Linked DNA regions of Homo sapiens. The protein of the gene in region 1 purifies or fractionates together with the protein of each later gene. This does not show direct contact. Each region holds a gene or a part of one and is shown on either strand. Other genes may lie near its edges. The genes, in order: SLC67A1, NUP133, WDFY3, BRAT1, ABHD17B, NPEPPS and ITPRIP.

Region 1 (3,235 bases):
TCACCGACAGCATGCTGATCAAGGCTGTCTCCACCTCGGACACAGGTGAGTGTGGCCAGCGAGTGGAGCAGCCTCCTCCAGGAAGCCCTAGGAGCTACCCGGTGGGGATGGGGTGGGCAGCCTAGGGTCTGTGTGGGGTGGGTAGGGTGGGGGGCCTGGGGTCTGTGTGGGTTGAGTGGAGTGGGTGGGGTGGGGGCTTGGGGTCTGTGTGGGATGAGTAAGGTGGGGAGCCTGGGTCTTGCATGAGACTCCTGCCCTACCACCTAGCCCAGCTGGGGGCAGGCCAGGGGCCTGGGAGGGGGCTGCCCGCAGGTGGCAGTTGGCTTGGCCCTGAGAAGCACCTGAGGACTTTGCCTGCCAGGCCTGGAGGCCCCGGGGACTTCTGGGCCCTCCCCCAGCACGGGGAGTGGGGCACACAAGTGCTCAGGAGCTTCCTGAATGAATGAGGGAGTGAATGAATGCATACCAGTAATTAAATCCAGGAATCCCCTAGGCCACTGCAGGGGACACAGGTCCCCTAGACATAGATTCCCCCAGTCCCCACTTCCGACCCAGCTTTCTTTCTTGAGGCCGAAGAGAGCCGCTCATGCAGACTGGGGGTGTCCTGGGCCCGATGTTATCCAGGCTCCTGCCCCACCCCAGGCACAGTGTGGGTACACACTGGCCAGTGCAGGGGGCTCCTGTGGGCTGGTTGAGGTCAAAGGACTCAGGAGTCCTTTGGAGTACTGGAGATTCTTCCAGGCCTCCCCAGCAGCAGATCCAGAAAGCTCAGGGCACACATCTGACACTCCATCCACCTGCCTGTCTGGGAGGCAGCAGATCCAGAAACTCAGGGCACACATCTGACACTCCATCCACCTGCCTGTCTGGGAGGCAGCAGATCCAGAAACTCAGGGCACACATCTGACACTCCATCCACCTGCCTGTCTGGGAGGCAGCAGATCCAGAAACTCAGGGCACACATCTGACACTCCATCCACCTGCCTGTCTGGGAGGCAGCAGACCAAGGTCTAGAGGCCCGGATGTGGCCGGGCTGCAAAGGGCAGGCCTATTCTCAGGGCTGCCTGGGAACCTCCAAGGCCTTCGGGGACTGTGACTCCATGGTGCATGGGCTGATGCAGGCTGAGCCAGGAGGGCTTCCTGGAGGAGGTTGGGCAGCACTTTGGAGAGGCCAGGAGGATGGCACAGGAGAGGAAGGCCTGGGGAGATGAGGACCCGGCCTGGCTGGGAAGAGGCCCCTGGAGGCTGAGGGAGACCAGGCCCAGGCCATTGGGCCACGTCATGCGCAGACACCACCCCTGGCCTGGTAGGAGCCAGCATCTGGTTCCCAGCAGCAGCTTGGAAACCCAGCGACAGAAGGGGCAGGAACTGCACCCTGAGTCTGCAGAAGAGGCTGCTCTTAATGGTCCTCCATGCTGGGCCCTGAGCCCAGGTGGGGCCTGGCCAGCTCCTCATCACAGCTGACCAGCCCTGGGAGTTCCAACTCCAGGAGACCTGGGCTCTGAAGTCCCTGGAGCCAGAGACCCTCTGGGCACGGGACCAGAGGCAGTGTCCTCCCACCTGGAGTCCTGGGGGGTCCTCCCGCTTGGCGAGTGCTGCCCCCCTTGTTGCCCGAGTGTTGACAACAGCCACAGATAGTGCCCACGTGCCCGTCCATGCTGCGGGTAGCTGGCCACAGGGGCGTGGAGATGCGGTGTCAGGGACAGAGCAGGCTGCTGCGCAGGTCGGGGCTGTCTGGGGAGCCTCGGAAGCCGCTCGGTCTTGCTCTGGGGACAGGAGGGGCAGGTGGAGGGGCCCTGCATGGGCTTCCAAAGCCCCTCCCAGCCCTGTGAGGGGGAGTTCCATGGAGTAGTAGGAGCTCCGCAGGGTGGGGCGGCTGGAGGAAGGGCTGATGGCCAGGAGGGGCCGTGGGATGGGGGTGTCATGCCCACTCTGAACTCAAGCCCCAACGGTGTCTCACAGGCCAGGCTTAGCCTCCCCACTGCATCACCAGCCCTCGGTGGTGGCAGGCACCCTGGGAAAGAGCCGTGAGAGCCAGCTCCCTGACAGCCTGGGCGGGAGGTTCCGGGCCCCAGGCACAGATGCCATCTCCCTTGGCAGGCCTGGCAGGGCGGGGCCTTCTGCGGTGACCTGTGGTCCCATTCCCAGGCTCCTCCTGTGCTTGGAAACTTTCTGGAGCAGGGAAGAGACTCAGCCCAATGCCCTGGGAAGCACCCTGCATGGCTGAGAGGTCCTCGGGGAACAGACCAGTGGGTAGAGAGAGCTGTGTTTGCTCCAAAGGCTGGGCGGGTGGCAGGGGGTGGGGGACTGGAGGTTAGAAGCTGGCAGGTGGAAAGGATGGGTGTTCAGGGGAGTATTTCACCAGACTATGCAAGGTGCGGACTGCGCCGTGAGGTCAGGGTGGGTCAGGAGAGATGGGAGGCCATGGCTGTGTTCAGGAAGTGGGCAGTTGGCCCAGGGAGCTGCCCAGGGCCTGACTACCCCCATGCACCCCCCAGGGACCATGCTGGGCCTCTGCGCCTCTGTACAACCACTGCTCCGAACTCTGGGACCCACGGTCGGCGGCCTCCTGTACCGCAGCTTTGGCGTCCCCGTCTTCGGCCACGTGCAGGTTGCTATCAATACCCTTGTCCTCCTGGTCCTCTGGAGGAAACCTATGCCCCAGAGGAAGGACAAAGTCCGGTGACCGCTGCCCAGACACAGACTGGCAATAAACTCCTACTAAATCCCTCCGACCTCTTCCGGCCTGGTTTCTGCAGGCTCACGCATGGTCTGCCTGCGTCCTTCAGTGAGGGATGGGGCCTCGGGCTGGAGGGCTTCCTCAAGGAGGGCGCCTACAGCTGGGCAAAGCTCTGGGGAGGACAGAACCACCCAAATTGGTTCACTGTTATTAGTACAGCCCTGAGTCCGCCCATGGAGGAGGTCCCCCTGCTGCCACACAAACAGCTCTTGCTCACATCCCAAGCAATGGCGAGCTCACTGCCCAACTCCCGCCCACAGTGTGCCTGCCCAAGAGCAGAAACAGGTTGCTTTAAAAGATCAGGGAACCTGGCTGGGCGCAGTGGCTCACGCCTGTAATCCCAGTACTTTGGGAGGCCGAGGCGGGAGGATCATGAGGTCAAGAGATCGAGACCATCCTGGCCAACATGGTGAAACCCCGGCTCTTCTAAAAATATTTTTTAAAAAATTAGCTGGGTGAGGTGGTGCACGCCTATAGTCCCAGCTACTCGGGAGG
Region 2 (3,500 bases), on another chromosome or scaffold:
CTGTCTCCAAGTACCTATTTGCTTTGCATGCTGATCTTCTTTTTTTTTTTTTTTGAGATGGAGTCTCACTCTGTTGCCCGGGTTCCAGTGATTCTCCTACCTCAGCCTCCCGAGTAGCTGGGATTACAGGTGCTAGCCACCACCCCGGCTAATTTTCATATTTTTAGTAGAGATGGGGTTTGATGTCGAACTCCTGACCTCAGGTGATCCACTCGCCTCAGCCTCCCAAAGTGCTGGGATTACAGGCGTGAGCTACTGCATCCATCCTGATCTTCTCCTTTGTCTCTCTCGATCTACTCTTTTTTCTGGGGGCAGGGGGCACTAAGTCTTGCTCTGTTGCCAGGCTGGAGTGCAACAGTGCAATGTCGGCTCACTGCAACCTCTGCCTCCTGGCTTCAAGCAATTCTCCTGCCTCAGCCTCCCAAGTAGCTGGGACTACAGGCATGTGCCACCATGCCCAGCTAATTTTTGTATTTTTAGTAGAGACCTGGTTTCACCCTTGTTGGCCAGGCAGATCTACTCTTGACTCTGCCACAGCAAGGTGGCCTTCCTGAATGGGCTCCCTTGCCCTCCGGCTTCTGCCAGGTCAGATGAATGTGAGGCCCTGCCATAAGGCCAGAAGTTGGAGTAGTTATTCTGCCAGCTTTCTTCCTTGCCTGTGCGCACTTTACATTGGCTGTGCCCCTCTGTCAGGGACTGTGCCTCCTGTCCAACTGCTTTCTCTGTGTTTCCAGTAGCTGCCCCCTCCTTGTGCCTCTTCAGGCCTGAGGTTGATAATGCCTCATCCTAGGGTGCTGCCCCATCCCTTTTTGGACCCCTTAATCTTGCCCACACCTTTGCAAACAGTACCTTCACTGAACTCCTCAGCTACCTCCTAGGATCCTGTTGCTACACCTTGCTTGTAGAATCAGATTTATTTTCAGAGAAAAAGTAAAGTCTGCTACAAACTTCAAAGACAGAAATGGTTAAGATGCTGGGCAGCCAGTGGCAGCTGGACATTGTGGAAATAGTGACGCAGTCCTCGTGCTTTTGTGAAGCTTCACAGCCTGATGAGGCAGCAAGGCAGACTTCGCTGTCTCCCTTTAAAGGTGTGACATTAGAACTTAGACCTGTTGTCTTAACTGAGACTGCAGAACTATCTGGTTTTAGAAACAGGGCCAGCTCTTCCCTGAGCTCTGTGAAATTTGGAATTCCTTATGCATTTGAGGAACTTCAAACTCTATTTGGTGTCTCAAATTTTGCTTCCTTCCTCCTATAGCCTAGCTGTATTCTAACATGTAGCACACTGTGCCGACAAGTCTCTTTTTCTTAATGTTTGATGTACTGTAACCTAAGTTTGATGTACTATAACCTAAATTCAGTCTTCCTGTTGATTCCATAAATGTGTTTAGTGTGAATTCTTTGCTTTTATGCATTTGGGTTAGTTCCTGGGGAATGGAAGGAAAAGCACTTTGTTATGTTTTGTTTTTAATCTAGACAGTATGCCAGAAATCTGAAAGAAAAACAAATCACCTCAAGTTTCATGATCTAACAAATCAAGTTGTTGTCATTTTTGTGTCCTTTTTGGTCTTTATTCATATATAATTTTATATGATAAGACAATTTTTTAAAATTAATTACAGACTACTTGTAAGAACTGAGCAAGAGCCTGGTTCATTATTCTGCATTTGGATCAAAGGGCAAAGTATAAGTGTCAATTTAGTGTATGTACATGTTTCAGTTAGCTGAATTATTGGAGAAGGGTCTGGAAATTATCAGTTGGATACATATAGAATAATATTTTAGGAATATGATACAGCAAAACTAAAAATGTGATTGGCTCCTCAAAAGAATGTTCCATATGAAAAATGGTAATGTTTAGGACTGTTCCTGTCACTATTTATCTTCATTTCTCATGATGTTCGTTGGTCTTTAGCTTCTCTGGGGTGTAGTTATAAAGGTTTTCTCCCGTGTCATAATGATCATGAAAAGAGAATACAATAGCTATATGCATATAGTAGTTTTTCTTTCTTTTTACCTGTCCTTCCACTTGGGGGTGACAAGTTACCTGTCTAAGGAGTATTTGTGTTTTGGGACGAGCTGGTTAACCAAAATCAATCTCTGATTGGTGGGCCATATAGAACGATATTTTGACTTGGCAGCCCTGATAGAAAGTAAAACAATACAGAGCTGCCTGAGGGTGCGCTCTCCACTTTGACTCTGTCTCCAGTTTGGGAAGGCCTTGTACCTCCCAGGGCTCTGGAAAAGCAGAGCTCACTGCTTAAGGAACAGACTATGTTGACACGGCATATGAGCAATATTTGAAATCACTGAATATATACATGATAAGAGAATTTAACAAGTGTTTTGGCATTTTATGTGCTTTTATGTTATTTTCTGTCTTTTATATTATATATGCTTTCCTTTTTTTTTTTTTTTGAGACTGAGTCTTGCTCTGTCGCCAGGCTGGAGTGCAGTGACACAATCTCTGCTCACCGCAGCCTCGGCCTCCTTGGTTCAAGCAATTCTCCTGCCTCAGCCTCCCAAGTAGCCGGGACTCCAGGTGCACGCCACGACGCCCAGCTAATTTTTGTATTTTTAGTGGAGACAGGGTTTCACCATGTTTTCCAGGATGGTCTTGATCTCTTGACCTTGTGATCCACCCACCTCCAAAGTGCTGGGATTGCAGGCATGAGCCACCGCACCCGGCCATTATATAGGCTTTCATTGTGTTTTTCATGTTAACAATGTAAAATATTCTTACACTTAAGCTTATAAATTAAATGTGCTAAAGATTTCTTGCCTGGGCTGTTAGGATGCCTTTGGCTAACATCAGAAATGCAAAAGGAAGAACAAGGTTTGCAAAAGGGAGGGATTTTGTTTGGGTCATGTTTTATCTGTGCCTATATAACTTGTTCCTTCAGCCAGTTTGTGAGGTCCTTGAGGGCAGCTAATCTGATTTTTCTTTCCTCTTATCTCTGAGTGTCCATTGCTATGCAAACTCTAAATAATGGGGGGAAAGCTTAAGTGCAGACTTGAACTTGAAACAGGAGTTTCAGTGCCTGATGGTATTTTTGCACTGTTATCTCCATGTATTAATTAATGACAAAGGAAGAGTTAGAAGTTATGTATTTAGTTCATTCTCTTATGTTGCTTACTTCTGTTCTACAAATGTTTCTGTTATGTCTGAAGAAGGGGAATTCCTCAAAGAAAGAAATTAGCAAGTTCACTTTTTGAGGTCATTATTTTAGTCTATTAGTTCATTAGTTTGGGGTATTACATTGTAAAGTGATGTCATCTGTAACCTAGTGCTATTTAAAGATGCACTGAGCAGAGTAGCTATAATAAAAAATATCATCGCTTAAAAATCTCAGTAACAATCCAGAATTTGCCTGTTTATAAGACTTATTTGGGCACTCTGACTTTTAAAAGTTAGGAGATGTGACTTTTCTTGATTTTTGAATTTATTTTTACCATCAACTGCCAATAAATTTTCCTCCATCTATAGGTCTGAGGATATG
Region 3 (3,500 bases), on another chromosome or scaffold:
AAACACAGTCTTTCCACCCAGGTACTTTTTTAGTTTCATTGCTGATATTAGTTGTAGTATTTTGTATAATATACTTAACATGTACAAGCAATTGATTGGAAATGAAACTTTTCTGTATTTTTGCTTTAGAATAGAGATAGAAGTAATCCAGACTATGGGAATTTCTCTCATTTTCTTATGATAAAACTATATATGAGTGCTATTTACTTATACCCATTTTATAACTGGATATAAGATGAGATTTAGAGATTAATGTATGATCAGACTATAGATAATTTTCTCTCAATTTTCCCAGCTTTCAATAATGTTATTACTAATAATTATATAAATTTTAAGGCAATAGCCAAACAAGCCTTTTTTAATTTTTACAATCTTGTTGTGTATACCTATGGTTTTTTAAAAGCTCATCTGCCTCCAGCATTAACTTCTTCCTCATCCTACTTCCTTCACCATCCCAGAATCTAAGTGGCAGCTATGAAAAGGATCTGAGAGAAATAGTATGTGTCAGCCATCTCATGCATCAGGTTAGGTTTTCTAGGAAGCAAACTCTGAGATGGAGTTTAGTGTGCATAATGTATATTAGGGGGTGCCCTTGGGATCAATACCTGTGGAAGGGAGAAGAAAGCAGGATTGGACATAGGGAAAAGTCAGGCTGCAGTGCTGGTCTAGTGACAGCCTCAGCCAAGCTAAGTGGAGCTTTGAGGACAGAATACCCTCTTATAATTGACCTCCATTAAGCTGAAATGTGTGAGTCTTCTTACCCCTAGATCGTTGGATGTGGGGCACCCCGTCGGCCCTCTGCAGCTAAGGCCATCCCTGAGGGTGTTGAGAGCAGCCCAGACACGTGGGCAGCAAGCCCTTCCTTGAAGGGGCTTTGGGGGTGGGAGAGCATGCAGATCTGTGTCCATCACACAAGCATATAATTCATTCTGAATTTTTTGTTTTAGTTTTCTGTTTTGGTGCTTTTGGCAGAATTTTAACCAATTATTTAGCATTAATTTCAAGGGTAATTAACTATTTTTTTCCAGAAATCCATGAAATATTAAGACTCTTTTTCCATCCATTGTTAGGAGATTTCGCAGTGGATGTTTACTCACATTGCTGTTGTTCGTGACTTAGTAGATACACAATATAAAGAATATCAGGAGGTAAGGACTTATAATCATCATAATGGTTTGTTTTACATTTTTTGTATGTGAAAGGTCTCTGTTTGTCCTGGTATCTTTCTGCCCATTTTAAGGTACTTGCTGGACTGCATTCGTCATCAGATGATGGTTTTAATTATTCCTGCCATCAGCTACTTTGGCTACTGATTTTAGGATGGAAAATTTTAATCTTCTGTCAACAAACTGCATTTCAAAAAGCAACTAACTGAAAATGAGCCCAGCTGAATTCTGTTGACATTCACTACTGATATGTTACATGTCTTTGTTCCTAATAAAAATAAAAATGTAAGAATGAGCCTTCTTTTTCAGGCTTTTAACAAGGAGATTGTGAAAATACGCATCCAAGTCTCTGAGAAGTCTCTTAAAATTGTAAAAAATTACAAGATTGAATGAAATTATTTTTTACTATACTACAAGTGCTTGGTGATTATGTCAGTGAAAAATAAATTTATTGAAATTCTCTTGGTAAATTCATAATTACTCAAAAGCTTATCTTAAATATTTTATTCTCAGATTAGCTATTTTGGATCTATTAAAGGTTTCTGAATGGTTAACTGCTAATATTTTACGGATATAACACTAGATCCTTAGTTTCCCCAACCAAAGAACATATCAGTACTACTGTGATAGATAATTTTTTAATTGTTCACTCAGTAATCTTTACTGTCAGTTATATTTTAGAAATCTTTATTTTTAGATTTAAATTGTATATACTTATATTCCATGAATCATTGGGCAAGTTATTTGTCACTGTCTACTGTTGAAATGTTATATATTTGTCATTTGATAGATAAGAACTTGTACTGTGTCATAATTTCCATTTAAAAAATGGTTTGGATCTATCCCAGTGGCCAGAAGAAAATGGTTTCTCTTTGATTTTTGTATGAACATCAAGTTTCCTCTTAGTGCTGCATGTTTATATTCTTCATCTAAAATCTTTGGAAATGTTTACCTAGTTCACCAGTAATCAAGCCTGTTGGCACTTTTTCTTCATCTGACTTCCTAGAATATCCCCCGTACATGTTGTGGTAGCTATTTTACAGTTTGGTGTATCCTTAAATTACCATATATATTTATTAACGCACATAGGGCTAACCATTTCAATATAATTCATAGTAATATTACCATCTTTCCTGTGCCAGAGAAACAAACTTCTTTCAACTCTCTGTTTCACTATATTGCACACTCTACCCTATCCATGTCTGTCATTTACTTGATGCTTTAAGAAGTCCACCTTCTACAACAAAACCTCTTACTTTAACCATAAACAAATGTAATTTTACTTTTATAATGTTAACTGAAATGGTGTGGATTGTGTTTGTTTCCAAATAATAACTTGATTTTCAGTGACTTGTAGACTTGTTACTGTTACTCCTGCTTTTGCTTGAAAACCGACCTGGACTCTTTCCTGTCAGCGTCAGCAGAATGCCCTGAAGTACGTGACAGAAGAGTGGTGTCAGATCGAGTGCGAGCTGTTGAGGGAGCGGGGGCTGTGGGGCCCTCCCATCGGCTCCCACCTCGACAAGTGGATGCTGGAGATGACAGAAGGGCCCTGCAGGATGAGGAAAAAGATGGTGCGAAATGATATGTTTTATAACCATTACCCTTACGTGCCAGAAACTGAGCAAGAGACAAATGTGGCGGTGAGTATGCAGAATTCAATGATCACAATGGCTCTTTCAAGTTTTTATTTTCCTCTGTAAGCGTTTTTTCTCTATTTAGTCAATTACCTCAAATAGCTAATTTTAAAAATTCAACATACGCTATTAAATTGATAACTTCAGAGTGGAGGTGGAGTGAAAAGATGCAACAGTGCAAGAAGGAGACATCATAATAAAGAGGTTTAGATTACAGACTCCAGAGCCAGACTGCCCAAATTTAAGACCTGACTCTGCCACTTTGCTATTATAGCTGGGTTATGGGTCATTAAACCTCTCTGAGTTTTCATTTTATTATGCCTGAATTGGAGCAAATAATAGTTCCACCTCGTAGGACTGTTAGGAGGATTTAGTTCATTAAAATTAGTTAAGTACTTAGAATAGTGTCTGGTCCAGAATAAGCACTGTATATTAGAACACATGAATCTTCTAAGTAGCTCTGATCATATAAGGTGAGGCAGCTTGAATTGTTCCAATGCCTCTTGTTTTTCTCTGACAAACACCCTGGCTCCATTTATCTTGTACTGATTGGTTTAACCCCAGTCCTGATGCTAATATAGAGCTTAGCATCAACTTAAGTGTCTATCAGCAGAGTAATAGATAAAGAAAATATGCTGTGTATACATAATGGAATAGTATTCAGCCTTAAAAAAATAAGGAAAGCCTGTCATTTGTA
Region 4 (3,500 bases), on another chromosome or scaffold:
CTGTTGCCTAGGCTGGAGTGCAGTGGCACATCTCGGCTCACTGCAACCTCTGCCTCCTGGGCTCAAGCTATTTTCCTGTCTCAGCCTCCTGAGTAGCTGGCATTACAGGTGCCCACCACCACACCCAGCTAATTTTTTCATTTTTAGTAGAGACAGGGCTTTACCATGTTGGTTAGCCTGGTCTCGAACTCCTGACCTCAGGTGATCCGCCTGCCTCAGCCTCCCAAAGTGCTGGGATTATAGGCATGAGCCACCGTGCCCAGCCTGGAGGGTACTTTCATACCAGCTGCTGACAGACAAGGGCCCCCGGATTCACTGTACGGCAGCACCCTAGGACACCTTGGAAAGTCTGTCCTGCAGCAAGATGGTGCCTGGGTGGGCTGCTAGGGAGCCTGCAGCTGCTTAACTGGGGGGCATCGTGAACGGCAAGCTAACGGTACTGGATGTGCCTTCGCACAACCTGGCGAGGGCCTGTGAGGCACCAAGAGAAGCCGTCGTGGTAGACGGGCAAGGGCCCTGAAGCTCACACCACGCATCCCGACAGACTCAGCGGTGCCTGTCTGAGGCACTTGAAGCTGGAAGACACAGCTCTGGGAGGCTCTCGAGCTCTCATGCCTTGCTATGTAGAAATTCTTGGCTGGGAGCAGTGGCTCACGACTGTATCCCAACACTTTGGGAGGCCGAGGCAGGATGATCGCTTGAGACCAGGAGTTTGAGACCAGCCTGGGCAACATAGTGAGACCCCATCTCTACCAAAGATAACAAAGTTAGCCAGGTGTGGTTCATGCACCTGTGGACCCAGCTACTCGGGAAGCTGAATGGGGAGGGTCACTTGAGCCCAGGAGGTCAAGGCTGCAGTGAGCTGCCACTGCACTCCAGCCTGGACGACAGAGCAGGACTCTGTCTCTAAAAAACAAAACAAAAAAAGGCCGGGTATGGTGGCTCACGCCTGTAATCCTAGCATTTTGGGAGGCCGAGGCAGACGGATCACTTGAGGTCAAGGAGTTCGTGATCAGCCTGGCCAAAATGGTGAAATCCTGTCTCTACTAAAACTACAAAAATTAGCTGGGCGTGGTGGCAGGTGCCTGTAGTCCCAGATACTCGGGAGGCTGAGGCAGGAGAATCGCTTGAACCTGGGAGGTGGAGACTGCAGTTAGCTGAGTTCGAACCATTGCACTCCAGCCTGGGTGACAGAGCAAGACTCTGTCTCGAAAAATAATAATAAAATAAAATAAAAATAAATAAAATTAATTTTTTAAAAAAAAGACATTCTCATTAGTCATTCACATTCTCATTAGTTATTCATTCATTTGTAGGCTGGGTCGCTGGAGGTGCAGGATGTGCGGTCTCATTTGGTCCTCACGACAACCCCACGGCGCAGCTACGACTCCTGTCTCCGTCCCAGGAAGAGACGGGGGCCACGGGGCAGCTACGACTCCTGTCTCCGTCCCAGGAAGAGACGGAGGCCACGGCGCAGCTGCGACTCCTGTCTCCGTCCCAGGAAGAGATGGAGGCTTGCGGCCGTGGGCAAGCTCAGACAGCTGGTCAGAGCTGGGAGCCCGTGCCAGTCATCTTATTCCAAAAAACCTCAACTCCTTAGCCCCAGCATCACTCCGGGCGAATTTTTCAAAGGGGGCTACAGTCGGGGGTAAAAAACATGCAGTTCTAGTGAGGACACAGGGTCGGGGCAGGCCGCTGGGACTTGGGATGGTGATGGCTACAAATGCCCCACCTGGCTGCGGGAGGAAAAGCCTGCCCACCTCTCCACGGGACACTCAGGTGGGAGGCCCCAGGCTCACCTGAAGATACTGGAAGCAGTTTTCCTGGGCTGCGAAGGTTCCTGCCAGGCGCAGTGAGAAGGAGAGGACCCCAGAACTCAGGTCCTGGACTTTCAGCACATGGGACAGCAGCTCCACCAGGCAGGGGTGCTCCTGCAGCAGCACGACACTGGACTCTGTGGGGATGGCCCAGCCCAGGGGTCACCAGGGGTACGGCACCAGGTGTCCCCCTGGATGACCGCTCTTCTCCTAGCAATTCCCAGACCCTTTTCTTGCAGGGTGTTAGATTTAGGGATCCAACTGGGAAAAAAATATCTGCAACAAATACGGCAAATGACTCATAATTTTAATTCAGTAAGGGCTAGAAAGCCAACACCTTAACAACAGGTGAAAGGCGGAACACTGTCACCTTTCACAACAGGTGAATGGCCAAAAATGCTGAAAAAATGTTCTGTCTCACTGATAGTGAAAAAGAAATGCAAATTAAAGTGAAAGACCAGGCTGGGCGTGGTGGCTCACGCCTGTAATCCCAACACGTTAGGAGGCCAAGGCGGGTGGTCACTTGAGCTCAGGAGTTCGAGACCAGCCTGGCCAACATGGCGAAGTCCCATCTCTACTAAAAATACAAAAAATTAGCCAGGTGTGGTGGCTCATGCCTGTAGTCCCAGCTAATTGGAAGGCTGAGGCAGGAGAATCGCTTGAACCTGGGAGGCAGAGGCTGCAGTGAGCCAAGACCACGTCATTGCACACGGCACACTCCAGCCCTGGGCGACAGAGCGAGACTCCATTCCAAAAAAAAAAAAAAAAAAAAGTGGAAGAGCATTTTCACCTTCCAAATGGGTACTTTTCCTTAGACAGTGCTCCATGCAAGCAGGTACAATGGAACAAACATTCCTCTCCAGAACTGGCATCCTGTATTTCTATAACCAGCTATGCTATCGCTCAAAAGCACCAGTGGGGGAAAAAGACATTTTGAGGCAAAGGTTGGGAGAGTTTCCCAGTGAGAAGCCCCTGTGGAAAGAATGTGGTTCAGTAAGGAGAGTGAGGAGCATGCAGAGGAGGAGAACCAGGCCAGGACCCAAAAAGCACTATGTCCACCTGAATCAGCACTGCAGGCTGGGTGAGGTGCTCATACCTGTAGTCCCAGCACTTTGGGAGGCCAAGGCAGGAGAACAACATAGCAAGACCCTGTCTCTACAAAAAATAAAAAAAAATTAGCCCGGCATGGTGGCACACATCTGCAGTCCCAGCTACTCAGGAGGCTGAGACGGGAGGATTGCTTGAGCCCAGGAGTTCGAGGCTGCAGCAAGCTATCACTGCACCACTGTACTCCAGCCTGGGCGACAGAGGGAGACCCTGTCTCTCTAAAAAAAAAAAAGGCGGGGCGTGGTGGCTCACGCCTGTAATCCCAGCACTTTTGAAGGCCAAGGCAGGCAGATCACGAGGTCAGGAGATTGAGACCATCCTGGCAAACATGGTGAATGAAACCCTGTCTCTACTAAAATATAAAAAATTAGCCAGGCATGGTGGCGGGCGCCTGTGGTCCCAGCTATTTGGGAGGCTGAGGCAGGAGAACTGCTTGAACTCGGGAGGTGGAGGTTGCGGTGAGCCGAGATCGCACCACTGCACTCCAGCCTGGTGACAGGGCAAGACTCTGTCTCAAAAACAAACAAACAAACAAACAAAAAACAATGCCACTGAGTTCAAAATCTAAAAAATCAT
Region 5 (3,500 bases), on another chromosome or scaffold:
AGGTGGTCTTTGATTTCCCTTTGAAGTTCTGATGGTTATTTGCATATTCTAGCCTTTGTGCCAATTTTGTCCTTTTATATTACTCAAGAAGTGCGTGAGTTTTGTCTAGGTTATTTATTGACACATGATATTCTTTCATTTCTAGAAACTATGTCTGTAGCTCAAAGTCCTTTTTCCTTTAGTACATTATTTCGTTTATTTTGCTTATCTCTTTCTTGTGATCAGTCTTGTCTGAGTACCCTTTCCACAAAACAGTAGTTATGAGTTTGGGTTACAGAGTCATTCTGTCATGTATCAGTTCCATTGATCAGATTTGTGACATTAGGCAACTTATGTAACTATTCTATGCCTCTGTTTTCTCAATTGCAAAATGGGTGTAATAATAGTCCCTAAAGCAGAGGATTGTTGAAAGGATTAGTTAATATGTGAAAAGTGTTTAGAATAGTGCCTGACACTTTGTAAGTGTTCAGTTAATGCTATTTGCTATTAGTAGTAGTGGAAGCCTTTTCTGAAATCAGCTGTTGGTTCTCCATTGCTTTTTGTTCTTTGTTTTGTTGATATCTGCTCTTAATTTTCTTTTTCTTGTTTTCTTTTTGTTTACTCTCTTCTTAAGTTGGACACTAATATTTAAAGCTAGACTTTTGTAATGGATAATTGTAACTCCTTTAGATGTGCCCTGCACTATCATTTTTCTGATGATTATATCTGACTTATTAAGAGTCATGCTTATATTCAGGCTTTTCTTCTATGTCTTAAGCTTATCAGTATCAGTAGCATCCTCAACAAGTCAGGTACCCCAGCACATTTTTACCTCTTAAGTAGTCTCTCTTTTGTCAATCCTCTTCGTATTCATATTCACCAAAGTTTTTGTTCTGGATTTTTAGGGATATACTTTGTTGTCTTCACCCTCCTTGCTCCCATTGCTCACTTGTACAAAAAACATTGTATTAACTATTCTCCTTTATTTCTCATATCTCAGATATCTCATAGAAGTCCCTTGGGATTTGGGGGGTTTTTGTTTGTTTTGTTGTTATTGTTGAGACAGGCTCTCACTCTGTAGCCCAGGCTGGAGTGTAGTGGCTCTATCACAGCTCGCTGTAGCCTTGACCTCCCATGCTCCAGCAGTCCTCCCACTCCAGCCACGCCAGTGGCTGAGATTACAGGCACACACTACCATGCCCAGCTAATTTTTGTATTTTTTATAGAGATGGAGTTTTGCCATGGTGCTCAGGCTGGTTTTCAATTCCTGGGCTCAAGCAATCCTCCTACCTCGGCCTCCCAAAGTGTTGGGATTATAGGTGTGAGCCACTGTGCCTGGCCTTCCCTTGGATTTATCTCCTTCCCTCCTTGCTGGAGTTTTTCAAAGAGAGACTTGATTTGGTTAAGTCTTACGAGTTTTTGTGGGCCTGCAGATCTCTCTCTCTCTTTGTTTTTTTTGATAGAGACAATGTTTTCCTATGTTGCTTAAGTGGTCCTCCCATCTTGGCCTCCCAAAGTGCTGGGATTACAGGAGTGAGCCACCACACCCAGCCCAGATACCTTTATCCTTATATTAAAACTGTATTTTTGTTCTATGTACAATTCTAGGTTAAAAGTTTGATTTCATCTTTAGCTTAAAATTATCTCTCCATTGTCTTTTGGCTTCCAGTGTTTATATTAGAAAGTCATATGTTCATCTGATCTTGTTCATTTTTAAGTAGTTTGTTGTTTTTTGGTACACTTTGAGGTGTTTCAATCTGACTTTTTTTCCCCCTTTAATTCTGAGAAATTCTTAAATAGTCTTATCTTTATTTTCTCCTGGAACTTCTATAGTATGGATAGTGATATTTCTACTTCTATTTCTATCTATTAAATTTTGTTGTTTTCTGTCTCTTAATTCCCACAAAAAAATTCCATATTTGCAAATTACTCAACCTGATCTTTTAGCTCACTGATGTGTTTTTCAACTGTTAACTGCTCAAGCAATCCACTGCGTCTGGCATGAGTTTTATAAGAACAAGTTGGACTTGAAATTATCTAAGTTTAACAAGCTATTTCAGTGATTTTTTTTTTTTTTTACAGAATAAAATGTTTTTCTTCAGTAACTTGCTCACACTATACTAAAACCTAGATTTATTTGTTTTGTTTATAGTTTTTGTGAAATTTTTCAGACTTAAAAAGTATTCAATTAACTTTTGAAAGTAGGTCTGTGTTGCTGCCCTATACCAGGCCTCTTATTAGGAAAGTGATCATTTGCAAGTTGTTGTCATTAAATAAGCCCCAGTTATCTGGCTTTTGGGCAGTGGAAGAGGGGAGTCATTCTGTCAGCATTAAGGAAGTGAAGTTGTCATTAAACTAGACCCTGGCACTGCAGTTTTTCTCCTTTCTGCTTCTCTCCTTTGGTGTTCATCCCCAGAAACTTCTTCACAGCATTATATATGTTCAACCAGCCAGCTTTATTTCAAAAGTAGTTTATTATAGTGTATGAAAGTTTTTCTGCTGGGTGCGGTGGCTCATGCCTGTAATCCCAGCAGTTTGGGAGGCCAAGGCAGGCAGATCATTTGAGGTCAGGAGTTCGAGACTAGCCTGGCCAACATCATGAAACCCCATCTCTACTAAAAATACAAAAATTAGCTGGGCATGGTGGTGTGTGCCTGTAATCCCAGCTACTGGGGAGGCTGAGGCAGGAGAATCACTTGAATGTGGGAGGCGGAGGTTGCAGTGAGCCAAGATCGCACCACTGCACTCCAGCCTGGGCGATAGAGTGAGACTTCGTCTCGAAAAACAACAACAAAAGTGTTTCTGGCTAAGAGATAAATTATAGGACTATAGTCTAGATACGTACCATTTACTTATTAAGCTTTTTAAAAGGCTATTGTGGCTCAGCAGTCAATGGTATATGAGGTAATCAGGGTTGACAAATAACCATAGACAGATATTAAACAGACAGCACTGATATTATACCTTGTACCTCATCATCTTTCTGCAGGTCATTTCCTCCTCTGGAACAGATCCTTTGAGTTCCTTCCCTTTCATCTTCTTCAACAGACACTTTATCCTCCTGACCAGGATAGTAAATTTGTAGCCAGAGTCTATAGTAAACATCACTAATTTATCACATCTTTTGCTGGCTAAGCCCTGTGTATGCCTTAGAATCATTCTCAGCACAACACTTCAGGAAGCCCTCAGTTAAAGTTAGCAGATGACACTTAGTTGTTATTTCTGTCCTATTTCTTGTTCCAACCAGAGTAAGCCATTAACTTATTCAGGCTGTATTTTGAAGCCTAAAAAGAAATAAAGGTAGGAAGCAATTAAAGCATTTCCTAATATCCAAGATGTTTTTCTGCCCTTCCCTCACCTTTTGAAGTCTTTTATGTTATACCTACCCTTGTTCCTCTCTTCCTGTGCTTTTTTCTGCTGCTTCTTATAAACACATTTATACTGAGCATTATAGGATATATTTGATTCTGTATTGAGTGAAAAGGGCATTTTTTCCCCCAGATATTCTCAACCATTTAGTC
Region 6 (3,500 bases), on another chromosome or scaffold:
ATTGCTTGAGCCCAGGAGTTCAAGGCTGCAGTAAGCTACGATGGTGCCCCTGCCACTCCAGCCTGGGCAACAGAATGAGACCCTGTCTGGGTTTGCGGGAGAAGTTATTTACAATGTTTTGAAAATATCCTTTAGCCCAGGCATGGTGGCTCACACCTGTAATCTTAGCACTTTGGGAGGCCGAGGCAGGTGGATCACTTGAGTTCAGAAGTTCCAGACCAGCCTGGCCAACATGGCAAAACCCCCTCTCTACTAAAAATACAAAAATTAGGCAGGCATAGTGATACATGTCTGTAATCCCAGCTACTGGTGAACACTCCAGCCTGGTGACAAAACAAGACTTTGTCTCAAAAAAAAAAAAAAGAAAAGAAAGGAAAAGAAAATGACCCTCAGATATAATTCTCATATCACCAGTTGGCCTTTCTTGACATCTCTTTTAGTCTTCTCTCTTTTTCAGAAATGTGAGTTCTTTGCCAAATGTTTTGAACTGAATTTTAGGTCATTAAATTGTGAGTTTGGGAATATAGTGGAAGGGACATGTGAGTGTTTTAGATTAGTAGAATGACAATCATTTCATTTTCTTTAAGTATTTTCATCTTTTGTTTTTAGGAATGGTGGACTCATCTTTGGTTAAATGAAGGTTTTGCATCCTGGATTGAATATCTGTGTGTAGACCACTGCTTCCCAGAGTATGATATTTGGACTCAGTTTGTTTCTGCTGATTACACCCGTGCCCAGGAGCTTGACGCCTTAGATAACAGCCATCCTATTGAAGTGAGCCATACTTTCTAACCATTAGCCTATGACTGCTCTCATTTACAATGAAATACGTAATTTGTTACATAGATACTTTGGACTTTGAAAATAAGAGAAAATAGCATGGGTGATTTTACTGGTTCATATTTCTAGTCTTGAAAAGCTAGTAAGTCTAAGTTCTAATTAACATTTCTTTTTAAGGTAGGCAGTAAAAAAAAATTGGTCTGGCCAGGCGCAGTGGCTTATGCCTGTAATCCTAGCATTTTGGGAGGCTGAGGCAGGTGGATCACCTGAGGTCGGGAGTTTGAGACCAGCCTGACCAATATGGAGAAACCCCGTCTTTACTAAAAATACAAAATTAGCTGGGCACGGTGGCGCATGCCTGTAATCCCAGCTACTCGGGAGGCTGAGGCAGGAGAATCACTTGAACCTGGGAGGCAGAGGTTGCGGTGAGCCGAGATCGTGCCATTGCACTCCAGCCTGGGCAACAAGAGCAAAAAACTCTGCCAAAAAAAAAGAAAAAGAATAGTATGGGAGAAGTCATACCTATTGGGTAACACTATGGTTCCATTGTTTATGTCAAGGAAAATTCTGGACATATTTTATTGTCAGGGTCTGTTTTGTGAATACTTTAATTCTCTTGACTTAGCCTATCCCTACTTCAGTTTATATATATAAATTTTGTATCTAAAGAACTAGAGTTATAATGCTACTTCAACATATTTAATTAGGCTCCCATATAATTGTAATTCATTACAATTAGTGCAAGAAATCTAATGTTCTTCACCTCCATATCTTCCTCATCACTCCTCTGCAACTACCCCAAAAATAAACAGAACCATAGTGGCTTCTTTCCCAGCAGAACAAAGCCAGGACTGGAACCCAGGCTCTAAGGGATGACAGGAATCATGTTCTATTCAACTTTATTATTATTAGTTACTACATTTTTTTGAGGACCATCGTTATACATTATGAGTGAGTTAAAGGCAGAAAAATGTAAGTTAGAAGGGTTTTCCTAGAAAGCGTTTTATGTAATTCAGTATTACAGGCTATCTGCTTCCTGTCATAACCCTGAATCACACTGTCTGCCAGGTCAGTGTGGGCCATCCATCTGAGGTTGATGAGATATTTGATGCTATATCATATAGCAAAGGTGCATCTGTCATCCGAATGCTGCATGACTACATTGGGGATAAGGTAAAAAAAAACTTTAAATATTTCATTCTTTTATGGTGAAATCATAAGAGTTTTGCATGAAAAAAAGTCTCACTTTATTTGGATTAAGTTCCCAAATAGTTTCTGGCTTGTCATTTTTTTTTAATGACCAAAAAGAATGAGAATTCAATTATTTGAAGTTGACTACTCTGGTCTCTTAGATGAGTGATGTGCAGGTGTGTTTGGGAGTGGAAATGGGAGGCTGTTACAAAACTTAAGAGCAAGAATAGAAGGCATAGAGTACGCATTATTAAATAAAAGGCAGTAGGCATCAGAAGGATATATGTGTTTCAGTGTATCTGATACTTGAGTATTTGAGTAAATTTGTTTTTGATTACTGATATACAAATATACTATAAATTCTGAGATCTGACTTCCCTGGATTTTAAAAATTGTGTTTTCTCAGGACTTTAAGAAAGGAATGAACATGTATTTAACCAAGTTCCAACAAAAGAATGCTGCCACAGGTAATCTCTAATAGCTTGAGATAGAAATGGAGAGAAAGTATTGTCACTCTATCCAGGCTGGGACATTTTATTTTTGTTCTGAATACTTAAGGTCAGGATCCATGTAATAAATAAATTAGCCTTATTTGAAGCTGTGTTCAGGTTGAATATCTCTAATCTCAAAATCTGAAATTTGAAATGCTCCAGAATCTGAAACTTTTTCTTTCCTTTCTTTCTTTTTTTTAATTAAAGTTCTAGGGTGCATGTGCACAATGTGCAGGTTTGTTACGTCAGTATACATGTGCGGGCCATGTTGGTTTGCTGCACCCATTAACTCGTCATTTACATTAGGTATTTCTCCTAATGCTATCCCTCCCCCAGCCCCCTACCCCATGACAGGCCCTGGTGTGTGATGTTCCCCGCCCTGTGTTCAAGTGTTCTCATTGTTCAATTCCCACCCAAAATCTGAAACTTTTTGAGTGCCAACATGATGCTCAAAGGAAATGCTCATTGGAACATTTTAGATTTTGGATATTCCAATTATAGATGCTCAGCTAGTAAGTATAATGCAAATATTCCAAAATCCAAAAGAAATATGAAATTCAAAACATTTCTGGTCCCAAGCATTTTGGATAAGGGATACTCAACCTGCAGTAAGTCATAGGGTCAACATGAATCAGGACTCGTTATCCCTTTGGTCATCCTCCAGCATTCTGCTTTCCATAACTGAGTATTTTGCCAACTTAAAGAGTCTGGGCCGGGTGTGGTGGCTCACGCCTGTAATCCTAGCACTTTGGGAGGCCAGGATGTGCGGACTGATTGAGCCCAGTTCAAGACCAGCTTGCAACATAGCGAGACCCCACCTCTACAAAAAATACAAAAATATTAGCCGGGTGTGGTGGTATGTGCCTGTAGTCCCAGCTACTCAGGAGGCTGAAGTGGGAAGGGTCACTTGAGCCCAGGAGTTTGAGGTTACAGTGAGCAATCATGGCACCACTGCACTCCAGCCTGGGCAACAGAACAAGATCCTGTCTGAAAAAAATAAAAAATAAAGGGAATACAGTCATGTGTTGCTTAACAACA
Region 7 (2,633 bases), on another chromosome or scaffold:
ACAGGAAGCTTTTGGGTTTTAAAGAAAGAGATTGTATTTTAAATAGAGGATTTTGAGTCCTCTAGGGGACTTTGGCCTTTCCACTAAGGACAACCCTGCCCTCTTTCCCCAGAGTCTCTTTCCCAAGGATGCTTGACTTTCCCCAGCAACTGCTCACTTGCTTTGCAAAATAACAAGGGTGAAATGAATAGAGTTGGCCCCTAGGCCAAGAGGCTGGTTATGTTGGGGAAGGGCCTTATATCCTCAAAAGCTCTAGCCCCTCTGCATGCCTGGCTGAAGCACAGCCCCCGTTGAGAACCTGGGGGTGGAGCTCTGGTTCATCATCAAGGGTGTCATCCGAATCACCCAGACAACCTGGTCCATTGCCCCGACCCCGCCTTGAACCTACATGGTGCTCAGAATCCAGTCTGGAGTGGTCAGGCTAGGCTCGATTTTTAAAGATTTCCCCCAAGTGACTGATGGTACCCCTAGCTGAGGAAGCCCTCTCACTTTCTTTCTTAATGGAAAGTTAAAGAAAACCCAAGTGGACTACTTTCCCTACAGATCTATTGGAAGATAGATAGACCTGGGAAAAGCCAATGAGCCTGCTTGGAATCTGTGGTCTAAGTGGCATCAGCTACACCACAAGCTTCTCATGAGGGCACCCACATTCACGCTAGTGCCGTAAGCCTCAGAGAGAGGGTGGGAAGGCATAAGATGGTGAGCCCTTCTCCCAAGCAGGTCATGAATAGTCCACAAGCATTTGTCAGGAGCCTAACGTGCATGAGACATTGTGGAAGATGGGAAAATGAATAGGACCAAGCCTGTTCCCTAGGAGAGGCAGCAGAAGGTGGCCTTCCAAGTACTGAGCTATTCCAAGTGTGACCCTGCACTACACATACGGGTGTCACCTGGGGGCAGCTTCCTGGGCCGTGTCACAGACTCCAGTGGGATCCTGAGAAGTTAGGTAGAAGAATCTGCACTTCACCAAGTTCCCCACCTGATTCTGGATGTCCAAGAACCACTGGTACCTGGGCTGATTAGGGAAGGCCTCATGGTGGGGCGCTGCCAGATAGAGACTCTGAAAAATGACCAGGACTGTGGCCAGGAAAGACATTCCAGCCAGAAGCATGGAGTGAGGGTGGGAAGCACCTACTGTATGGCAGGCACCGTTCCGCACACACATTTGTTAATGCACACAGTTCCATGTCAGTCCTATGATGTAGGTGCTATTCTTATCCTCCCTGCTTTCCAGATAAGGAAACAGGCACTGAAGGGGCAACTGACTTACCTACTGTCACAGTGGTAAGTAGCACAGCCCAGATTCCAACCCAGGCAGTCCTGGTGTACATGTTGGCATATACTGAGAAGTCGTAGCAAATGAGGTTGAAAAGATAAGAGTGGGGCTGAACCATGCAAAGCCTTGAATGCTAATACAAGGTAAATTTGGACCTCACAACAAGCAGAGGTGGGCCATTGGCGGGTTTTGAGTGAGACAGTAACTTGATTCACCCCCAAACTAAGGAGTCCTTATCTATGTGATCAGTGCCATCCATGTCCTGTGCTGTAGGGTACATGGCCGGCTTCCCGAGCAGGGTTGGTGGCAGCTGGCAGTGGTTGGTGAATGTCCAGGAAGTCTTAACTCAAGCCACCCCAAGGCTGTGATTCAGAACATTTTCGTGGTCCGTCTCATCTCCACCTCACGGGACAGAGCTGGAAGGCTGTTTGGTTTGGCCAGCGACCGAAAGCAGAGGGAGCCAAGAGTCACAGAGTGAAGGGCAATGTGTGCCTTCAACAGGGCCCTCCCTCTCCGCCCCACTCTGCCTTGCCCCACCCCTGTCCCTGGGAAGGGCATCTTTTAGAGTTAACTTTTCTCATTGCCATCCAAAAATAGCTTGCTTGTTTAACTAGTTTGTTGTTTAAAAAATAAACATAAAAGCAATAATACAGTCATAATTTTAAAATTCAAGTACTAACAGGAAAATTAAGTAACAGACTAACGGTCCCACTTCTGACTTCTTAGTCCACTCCCCAGAGATAACCAATATGAAGTTTTTGGTGTATCCTTCCAAAATTTTTCTGTGTATGTGTCACATGTATGTATATATATATGCATCCTTTTAGTCCTTTTTTACATAAATGGCATCATACCGACTAATTCTTCTTGGTTATCTTTTTGAACATTTGGCTCTACCTTATTCTTTAAACTAGCTGCTTACTGGCCGAGTACATTAGCTCACACCTATAATCCCAGCACTTTGGGAGGCCAAGGCAGGAAAATCGCTTGAGCCCAGGAGTTTGAGACCAGCCTGGGCAACATGGCAAACCTTGTCTCTACAAAAAATATATAAATTAGCCAGACATGGTGGCGTGTACCTCTAATCCCAGCTACTCCGGAGGCTGGGGTGGGAGGATTGCTTGTGCCTGGGAGGCAGAGGCTGCAGCGAGCCGTGATCACTCCACTGCACTCCAGCCTGGGTGACAGAGTGAGTAAGACCCTGTCTCAAAAAAAAAAAAAAAAAATATATATATATATATATATATATATGGCTGCTTACTATCTCACTGTCTGTATGCATGTACCATAATTTACCCAACTTTCCCTACTGAGGAACACTTAAGTTGTCTCCACTTTTTGCTGTTATAAACAACAC

Evidence for each region.
Region 2: the proteins of SLC67A1 (region 1) and NUP133 purify together in Homo sapiens (affinity purification with mass spectrometry; one large-scale study listed by BioGRID and IntAct). This does not show direct contact.
Region 3: the proteins of SLC67A1 (region 1) and WDFY3 purify together in Homo sapiens (affinity purification with mass spectrometry; one large-scale study listed by BioGRID and IntAct). This does not show direct contact.
Region 4: the proteins of SLC67A1 (region 1) and BRAT1 purify together in Homo sapiens (affinity purification with mass spectrometry; one large-scale study listed by BioGRID and IntAct). This does not show direct contact.
Region 5: the proteins of SLC67A1 (region 1) and ABHD17B purify together in Homo sapiens (affinity purification with mass spectrometry; one large-scale study listed by BioGRID and IntAct). This does not show direct contact.
Region 6: the proteins of SLC67A1 (region 1) and NPEPPS purify together in Homo sapiens (affinity purification with mass spectrometry; one large-scale study listed by BioGRID and IntAct). This does not show direct contact.
Region 7: the proteins of SLC67A1 (region 1) and ITPRIP purify together in Homo sapiens (affinity purification with mass spectrometry; one large-scale study listed by BioGRID and IntAct). This does not show direct contact.

Annotation. Positions count from the first base shown.
Region 1 is NC_000011.10:2,922,512-2,925,746, forward strand, and holds the end of SLC67A1 (solute carrier family 67 member A1), read left to right. Parts: coding exon 1-45; intron 46-2,498; coding exon 2,499-2,686; 3' UTR 2,687-2,735; downstream 2,736-3,235. UniProt on the Homo sapiens protein: May act as a transporter of organic cations based on a proton efflux antiport mechanism. May play a role in the transport of chloroquine and quinidine-related compounds in kidney. Plays a role in the regulation of lipid metabolism.
Region 2 is NC_000001.11:229,466,842-229,470,341, reverse strand, and holds part of NUP133 (nuclear pore complex protein Nup133), read left to right. Parts: intron 1-3,500. UniProt on the Homo sapiens protein: Involved in poly(A)+ RNA transport. Involved in nephrogenesis.
Region 3 is NC_000004.12:84,732,691-84,736,190, reverse strand, and holds part of WDFY3 (WD repeat and FYVE domain-containing protein 3), read left to right. Parts: coding exon 1-21; intron 22-1,070; coding exon 1,071-1,148; intron 1,149-2,513; coding exon of another isoform or gene 2,514-2,516; exon of another isoform or gene 2,517-2,532; intron 2,533-2,581; coding exon 2,582-2,809; intron 2,810-3,500. UniProt on the Homo sapiens protein: Required for selective macroautophagy (aggrephagy). Acts as an adapter protein by linking specific proteins destined for degradation to the core autophagic machinery members, such as the ATG5-ATG12-ATG16L E3-like ligase, SQSTM1 and LC3.
Region 4 is NC_000007.14:2,545,525-2,549,024, forward strand, and holds part of BRAT1 (integrator complex assembly factor BRAT1), read right to left. Parts: intron 1,955-3,500; coding exon 1,800-1,954; intron 1-1,799. UniProt on the Homo sapiens protein: Component of a multiprotein complex required for the assembly of the RNA endonuclease module of the integrator complex.
Region 5 is NC_000009.12:71,876,694-71,880,193, reverse strand, and holds part of ABHD17B (alpha/beta hydrolase domain-containing protein 17B), read left to right. Parts: intron 1-3,500. UniProt on the Homo sapiens protein: Hydrolyzes fatty acids from S-acylated cysteine residues in proteins. Has depalmitoylating activity towards DLG4/PSD95. Has depalmitoylating activity towards GAP43. Has depalmitoylating activity towards MAP6. Has depalmitoylating activity towards NRAS.
Region 6 is NC_000017.11:47,590,108-47,593,607, forward strand, and holds part of NPEPPS (puromycin-sensitive aminopeptidase), read left to right. Parts: intron 1-609; coding exon 610-774; intron 775-1,796; exon of another isoform or gene 1,797-1,848; coding exon 1,849-1,953; intron 1,954-2,377; coding exon 2,378-2,438; intron 2,439-3,500. UniProt on the Homo sapiens protein: Aminopeptidase with broad substrate specificity for several peptides. Involved in proteolytic events essential for cell growth and viability. May act as regulator of neuropeptide activity.
Region 7 is NC_000010.11:104,309,200-104,311,832, reverse strand, and holds the end of ITPRIP (inositol 1,4,5-trisphosphate receptor-interacting protein precursor), read left to right. Parts: 3' UTR 1-2,133; downstream 2,134-2,633. UniProt on the Homo sapiens protein: Enhances Ca(2+)-mediated inhibition of inositol 1,4,5-triphosphate receptor (ITPR) Ca(2+) release.